Homo sapiens: one gene and its partner. The protein of the gene in region 1 purifies or fractionates together with the protein of each later gene. This does not show direct contact. Each region holds a gene or a part of one and is shown on either strand. Other genes may lie near its edges.

Region 1 (3,651 bases):
TTTCTCCTTGCTGATTTTGCTCTATATCCTTTCACTGTAATACATCATAGCCATGAATAAGACTAGATGCTGAGTCCTGTGAGATTTCCTAGTGAATCATCAAACCTGAGGGTGTTCTTGGGGACACAGGTTTGGATACCAATGTTTACTGGTGTTTGCTTTCATATATAGTGAGTGAGGATTTATTTACTAGCTATGTTGTGTCCTGTTGCTTGCCTACATGTACCACTACTTATTATTAGCAGTATAGTTCTTTTTAGCTGTTATATTTTATGCTTTTTAAAAGGTTATCACATTACCATGTAACTAGAATGTATTATTTCCAACTGGGTTCTTACGTACTGTATTTACATGAATTAAGTATTTTTCCTACAAAAGCACTTTAAAATCTTTGAATACATGTATGATTTAAATAATAATAGCTAACACATAGCAATTACACATGTCAGACACTGATCTAAGTGCTTTGTAAATATTAACTCATGTAATCCTCACAATTCTTATGAAGTACAATTGGTACTCTCAGTCCCTTACACTTAGAGTACAGGTGAGGATAGTATAGATGACAAAAGCTCAATTACCTTGATGATGAAACTCAATTACCTTGACCAAGAAAACAGCTGGGAGGCAGCAGAACTTGGATCTGAACCCAGAGAATCTGGTCTGGCTTCAGAATCTCTGTTCCTAACTATTGTGTTATACTGACACTAAAAAAATGTACTGCCCCTTCCCCCAGTTTCCTGGACTACAACTTATACACCTCTCCATGTGTTATATGCTGCAAAAGTAAGAATAGGTGATTTCTGAACTCAGATCTGTTTAGCTCCAGGCTCAAGTGTTCTGAAAACCTGGCCTTACTGCCTCCCTTAAGTACATCAGGCCACACCGGGACAATGGGACAAAAGGGATCAACTAAGACTTACTCAGAGAAACCAAAACATACAGTAATCCTAGTTACAACACACTTTTCTACTCCTGAGTTATAGTCTCTCCTCTGGCAACAGTTCCTGTCTGAAAAAAATCTTTGAGGAAATAAGTCTTATAGCCTGGAAAAAGGCCAATCAGATGCTAGCTGGTTAAGTGGAAAATTTAAGTTTCACATGTCAAAATGGTCAGGAGAAATAGATACTGTGGTATCTAGTATTCACAGCAAATCCTAAAAACACTGTCATGAATTTAAAAATCAATGCCACAGAATATCAGATGATTTGAACTTACTTCTCTAGTTGAGGATTTGTGTAAGGAATATACTGCTGTTCTTGCCATTTCCAAAGCAGTCTTTAGAAAAGCCATATCTGTCCCTGTGAAGAGTAGAAAAAAAGCTCCTATTTACCTCTTCTCAAAACAGAAGATTAAGTTAGTAGGATTTAGAAATATTTTCTTCCAAACTTCAAAATAGCCACCTTGAAATCTTTTAGCAATAAGGGTACAAATAAACTATCAAAATATTATTTTAAGGCTGGTAGAATAAAACCAGAATTATACTGTCTTGGTTAAATAAGGATAAAGTAAAAATTTTAATATTATATTCCAACATTAATGACTTCAAAAAGGGGAGAAGGAAATGCATAGAGTACTATTCAGAATCATCTTGGTGGGGGCAGGGTACTTTTTAAACTATGCATGTCTTTTTTTTTTTTGTTTCGCTCTTGTTGCCCAGGCTGGAGTGCAATAGCATGATCTCAGCTCACCGCAACCTCCGCCTCCCGGATTCAAGTGATTCTCCTGCCTCAGCCTCCCTAGTGGCTGGGATTACAGGCATGTGCCACCATGCCTGGCTCATTTTGTATTTTTAGTAGAGACGGGGTTTCTCCATGTTGGTCAGGCTGGTCTCAAACTCCCGACCTCAGGTAATCCACCCACCTCAGCCTCCAAAGTGCTGGGATTATAGGCGTGAGCCACCACGCCCGGCCAAACTATGCATGTCTTTTCCTACCCTCACTGACTTCCTAACCTCCTTGCCCACAGTACACACAAAATTAACAGCCACGGTGAGTCACTGTTACTGATGGGCACATGTAGAAACCCTTGGGTCTGTTAAGACATTAAAAAACAGATTCTGAAAGTATAAAATTCTTTCTATGTTTCGTATTCATTCATAAGGGTTAGGCAAATTATTCCTGAAAGCAAATGGGAGATATACAATAAATGACATGACTATCTTTGTTTACTTAATACAAATTTGTAAAAATGAAAGTTGAAAAACTCAGTTTCTTAGCCATGCATTAAACAAATTGAAATGTAAATTATAAGAACTATACAAATAAGAGATTGGTTTACTTAATGAAGAGTAATAACATCACTTAGCCTTGGTTTATTTAATGAAGAGTGATAAAATCACTTAGCCCAAACAGTGATAAAAATGGTTTTTATTTTTGTTTAATTTTTTCTAGACAGGGTCTTGCTGTTACCAAGGCTGGAGTGCAGTGGCACATTCATGGCTCATCGCAGCCCCGAATACCTGAGCTCAGGTGATCCTCCCACCTCAACCTTCTGAGTAGCTAGGACTATAGGTGCACCACCACACTTGGGAAATTAAAATTTGTGTGTGTGTGTGTGTGTGTGTGGGTAGAGGCAGGGTCTAACTATGTTGCCCGGGATGGCTACCAATTCCTGGCCCCAAATGATCCTCCTGTATCAGCCTCGCAAAGCACTGGCATTACACGCCTGAGCCACTGCGCCTGGCCTTAAAAATGGTTTTAAAATCTTTTCTATAAATATACCAATATACCCGATTCTTGTTACAAACCTTTATTATTTTTGGTCCCAAAGGGAGGATTCATAATTACTGTATCGAATGACTTGGACATTCTGTTAGATAATAAGCACACATCACATTGAACCATGTCAATATTTGTTAACTCAAACTCTTCTGCATTCCTATTAAATATTTCCAATGCGTCTTCATCTATGTCAAATCCAACACACAACCTATAAATACAAAACACATACAAAGAGTGGCGACTTATAGCTCCCAAGTAAAAACAAAACCAAAATTAGCTGTTTTTTTTTTAAACCATATATCTTTTTAACCCAATTAGCAAAGTAAGAGTGAGTGTTTTCTTCTTTTTTTTTTTCTTTTTTCAGACAGGATCTTGCTGTGCCACCCAGGTGAGTGTAGTGGTGCCATCTTGCACTGCTCAAGCAATCCTCCCACCTCAGCCTCCCAAGTAGCTGGGACCACAGGCGCACACCACCACATCCAGCTAATTTTTGTATTTTTTGTAGACATGGGATTTCACCATGTTGCCCAGGCTGGTCTCAAACTCCTGGGCTCAAGTAATCTGTCCACCTTGGCCTCCCAAAGTGTTGGGATTACAGGCATGAGCCACTGTGCCCAGTCAAGTGTAACAGCATAATTTCCAAACCCGGCAGGGGTTGGAAACTCAGGTTTGTATAAAAGGAACTGCTGCTTTCACCATTTTTATTTAATTTTTGTAGTTTGTTTAGATCTTCTGCCCATTCAAAATGTATTCAGTATCAGATTTTTGCTCCCTATATCTCATTCTGTGGAGTCTCATAAATATAATTCAGTTAATCCCATTGATGCTCCTTATTAAAGCCACCCAATACCCAAATAGCATATATTGCATTACGTACCCTGCTCCTAACATTGCAGTTCCGATGCTAAGTACTCCACAACCACATCCT
Region 2 (3,651 bases), on another chromosome or scaffold:
CTGTCTAAAAAAAAAGAAAAAAGAAAAAATATCTCCTCTGATAAATACCAGTGGATTGATCCTTGAAGCGACAGTGGTGTGGACAGTAGTGTCCATCATTGTATGTGCAGGGCCGTTCAAGGATGCTGGATCAGGTGTCCCGGGCCAGGCCAGGATCTGCCGTTTCATCAGGTCACAGTAGCCTGCACATTGGCGTCAACAGGCTTGGCTCAGTTAGGATGGGAAACGCGACTGGTTTTCCCTCTACTGTCTCCGTGGCTGCGTGTGGAGCGTCCGCTAATGCGTGTGGGGGGAAGAATGTTGCAGGGACCTGCGTGCACTGGGTCACAGCTGGGGTGGCACCTTCTCCATGTTGCAGGCGGGTGTCTGTGCGCTCCTGCTCCCCTTCCAATTTGCTCAGAGCTGACTGCTGCCTCTCACTTCCAAGCAGCTGCTCTCCCATGGGTGATGGTGATCCAGAGGCCATGGAAGAGTCTCCAAGGAAAAAGAAAAAGAAAAAAAGAAAGCAGGAGACACAGCGGGCAGTAGAAGAGGATGGGCATCTCAAATGCCCAAGGAGTGCCAAGCCCCAAGATGCTGTTGTCCCCGAGTCCAGCAGCTGCGCACCATCCGCGAATGGCTGGTGTCCTGGGGACCGCATGGGTATGCACCGGGCGAGGGGGTGGGAACCGCATGGGTGTGCACCGGGCGAGGGGTTGGGGGACCGCATGGGTGTGCACCGGGCGAGGGGTTGGGGGACCGCATGGGCGTGCACTGGGCGAGGGGTTGGACCGCGTGGGTGTGCACCGGGCGAGGGGGTGGGGGACCGCGTGGGTGTGCACCAGGCGAGGGGTTGGGGGACCGCGTGGGTGTGCACCGGGCAAGGGGGTGGGGGACCGCGTGGGTGTGCACCGGGTGAGGGGGTATTGGGGAGTGCACAGGCTGAGAGCAGCGTCTACTGCATCTGAGCTTGGGAGGGTCTGGGAGAAGATGTGGAGGGCCCTGGGACCCTACCAACCTTCACCCCCCACCCCCGAGTCTGCTCCCTTGGGTGATGGGGTTGAAGCTTCCTCATGTGTCACAGCATTTGACTGAAACAGCCCCATGAGAGAGGTTACAGTGCACATGAACTTTAAAACATTCTGTGAATGCCAGTGGGTCTTCCGATTCAAAGCTGTTCTGTCTACAGCTTCTCACGGAATGACTCCCTGAACTCCCAGCCTGAGTTTTTTTCTGTGATGGTTGAATTTAGAAGAGTTGGGTTCAAAAGTGAATCCTCCTCTCCCTCTATGTAGCTGGGCCATTCAGAACATAGCACGGTTTGCTTGCTGTTGGGGACCTGTGTGCTGTGGCTGTCCTTGGGCACCACCCCTCAATCGGAGGGTGTTTTGTTTTCTTTAGGGCTGGCTGGGGCATGCCTTGGCAGGCACCCGCCACAGAACACATTTGTTAAGTGAAGGGGAGAGAAAGTCCTGGCTGCTTGGTATAGGGGGCCGAGCTTGAGTGAGGCCTCCTCTGCAGTCTGGAAGGTCTGATTATGGCAGTGCATCTGGGGGTCAGCAGGACCTTAGAGACTGATTTGTATTTATCCAACTCTTAAGAAAGGAATTTATCGTTAAAAATGAAATGGTATGAAATAAATAGCAAAACGTGGGTGCTAGCTAGTGCCGACTGAGTTTGCTGGCCAGCATGCTCTCAGAAGTACTGCCCTGGCCGGGGGTGGTGGCTCACGCCTGTAATCCCAACACTTTGGGAGGCCGAGGCGGGCGGATCACAAGGTTAGGAGATCGAGACCATCCTGGCTGACACGGTGAAACCCCGTCTCTACTAAAAATACAAAAAGTTAGCCAGGCATGGTGGCGGGCGCCTCTAGTCCCAGCTACTCGGGAGGCTGAGGCAGGAGAATGGTGTGAACCCAGGAGGCGGAGCTTGCAGTGAGCCGAGATTGCGCCACTGCACTCCAGCCTGGGTGACAGAGTGAGACTCCGTCTCAAAAAAAAAAAAAAAAAAAAAAAAATACTGCCCTAACATGGCACCAGAGCTGTGCTCCGTGCCACCCTCGGAGCGAAGTGGAGTTGGCTTGTTAGTGCAAGGGACATCACTTGAGCACTTGCGGTGCGCCAGGGTCCATGCCAGGTGCTGGTTGTGTCTACTGAAGTGCGCCCTGGGCCCTCGGGGCTCCCTGGCAGAGCCAGAACCACACAGTAAGGGCTCATGCTCAGCAAGGAGGCGCTGGGGGCCGCATGGGCTCTTGCAGTCCTGTGCACCTGAGGAGAGTGGCTAAATGGGCAGGGCACCAGACCCAAGGGCAGGAGGCGCAGCACGTTGGGAGCAGGCAGGCTGCTCTGCATGGCCGGGTCCCTGGGCTGTGTGGATGAGATGGGAACCATGGAAGCCACTGTGTGGGGGCAGGGGACACTTAGCCTGGAGCTCACTGAGGAATTGGAGGCAGGGAGAAATGAGGTCAGATTTGTGTGAAGGGAGGTGAGTATATTCCAGGGGCTATGTGGCTAGCTGGGCAGAGGACGAGTTCAGAAAGGGTTTCTAGAACCCGATGAGGGTGGTGAGTGCTGTCCTGGTCCCGAGGTGCTGGGTGGACCTGTGCGGTGTTGCTGATGGGGACCAGGTTCCCCCTGGACAGGGCTTAGGAGGTCGGGCCCCTGATGGCAGCAGCCAAGCTTGGCCGTTCCCTCCACCCCTGTGGCCATCCAGGTGTCAGGCTGGTCCTGGGGCATGGGCCTCTCCCGTAGGTGAGGTGGATTCCATTTAGATCTAGTTCTCTTCTCTCCTTCTGTCAGACTGAGGACTTAACACTACTGGTTAAAGGGGTTTTGGAGGGTTTTTTTTTTTTTGGTTTTTAGCTTTTTGTTATTTTCCATGTTTTCTTTCTCATGAATTGACTTGGACAACAGCCTTCTCTATTGTGTCAGGTCATTAGTAAATTAAGCATGTAAGCATTAGTAAATAAGCATTTAGGCTGGGCGCCATGGCTCATGCCTGTAATCCCAGCACCTTGGGAGGCCAGTGGGAGTCCCAAGGAGTTTGAGACCAACCTAGGAAACATAGTGAGACCCTGTCTTTAAAAAAAAAAAAAAAAAAAAAAAAAAAAGGCAAGCATCCACTTACTGTAAGTTGTTTTATAATTTAAGGTGTGCGATTGCTTCCCCAGTGGGTTATTTTAAACGTCTGTAAATGTTTCTTGGCTGCTCCGATTGCAGGGCTGAGCCAGGCCCCTCCTGTGTCTTGGAATGGAGAGCGGGAGTCTGATGTGGTCCAGGAACTGCTCAAATACTCATCTGATAAAGCTTACGGGAGAAAAGGTACTGATTTGGAGACAGGACTTCTGTTTGCCTTTCATTGGTTGGTTTTGTAGGAGGGAAGGGTGTGGAATGGATCCTGGTGCACTGTGAGTGTGGCGGGCGGGCATCGCTCGGCTTTGAGAATGGGAAGAGGAATCTCAACACTGGCTGGAGTCCTCTTTAAACCCTCAGCCGTGGCACGAAGGTGGCTTCTGTCCGTGGCAGGATCCAGAACAGCTGCTTCTGAGGGTTGGGGCAGGGTGAGGAGCCCCACACATGCTGTGTCTTGGGTAGGGAAGGGGCAGAGTGACGAAGCTCTTCCAACCTGGGTAATGTCACTTCTTGCTCAGAGCATGTTTTTATTCAGACTTCG

The links. Proteins that work in one complex are often made in the same cells at the same time.
Region 2: the proteins of METTL5 (region 1) and USP36 purify together in Homo sapiens (affinity purification with mass spectrometry, with the first as the bait; one study listed by BioGRID). This does not show direct contact.

What each region holds. Positions count from the first base shown.
Region 1 is NC_000002.12:169,818,343-169,821,993, forward strand, and holds part of METTL5 (rRNA N(6)-adenosine-methyltransferase METTL5), read right to left. Parts: coding exon 3,601-3,651; intron 2,932-3,600; coding exon 2,750-2,931; intron 1,302-2,749; coding exon 1,219-1,301; intron 1-1,218. UniProt on the Homo sapiens protein: Catalytic subunit of a heterodimer with TRMT112, which specifically methylates the 6th position of adenine in position 1832 of 18S rRNA.
Region 2 is NC_000017.11:78,799,315-78,802,965, reverse strand, and holds part of USP36 (ubiquitin carboxyl-terminal hydrolase 36), read left to right. Parts: intron 1-110; coding exon of another isoform or gene 111-430; coding exon 431-642; intron 643-3,197; coding exon 3,198-3,299; intron 3,300-3,651. UniProt on the Homo sapiens protein: Deubiquitinase essential for the regulation of nucleolar structure and function. Required for cell and organism viability.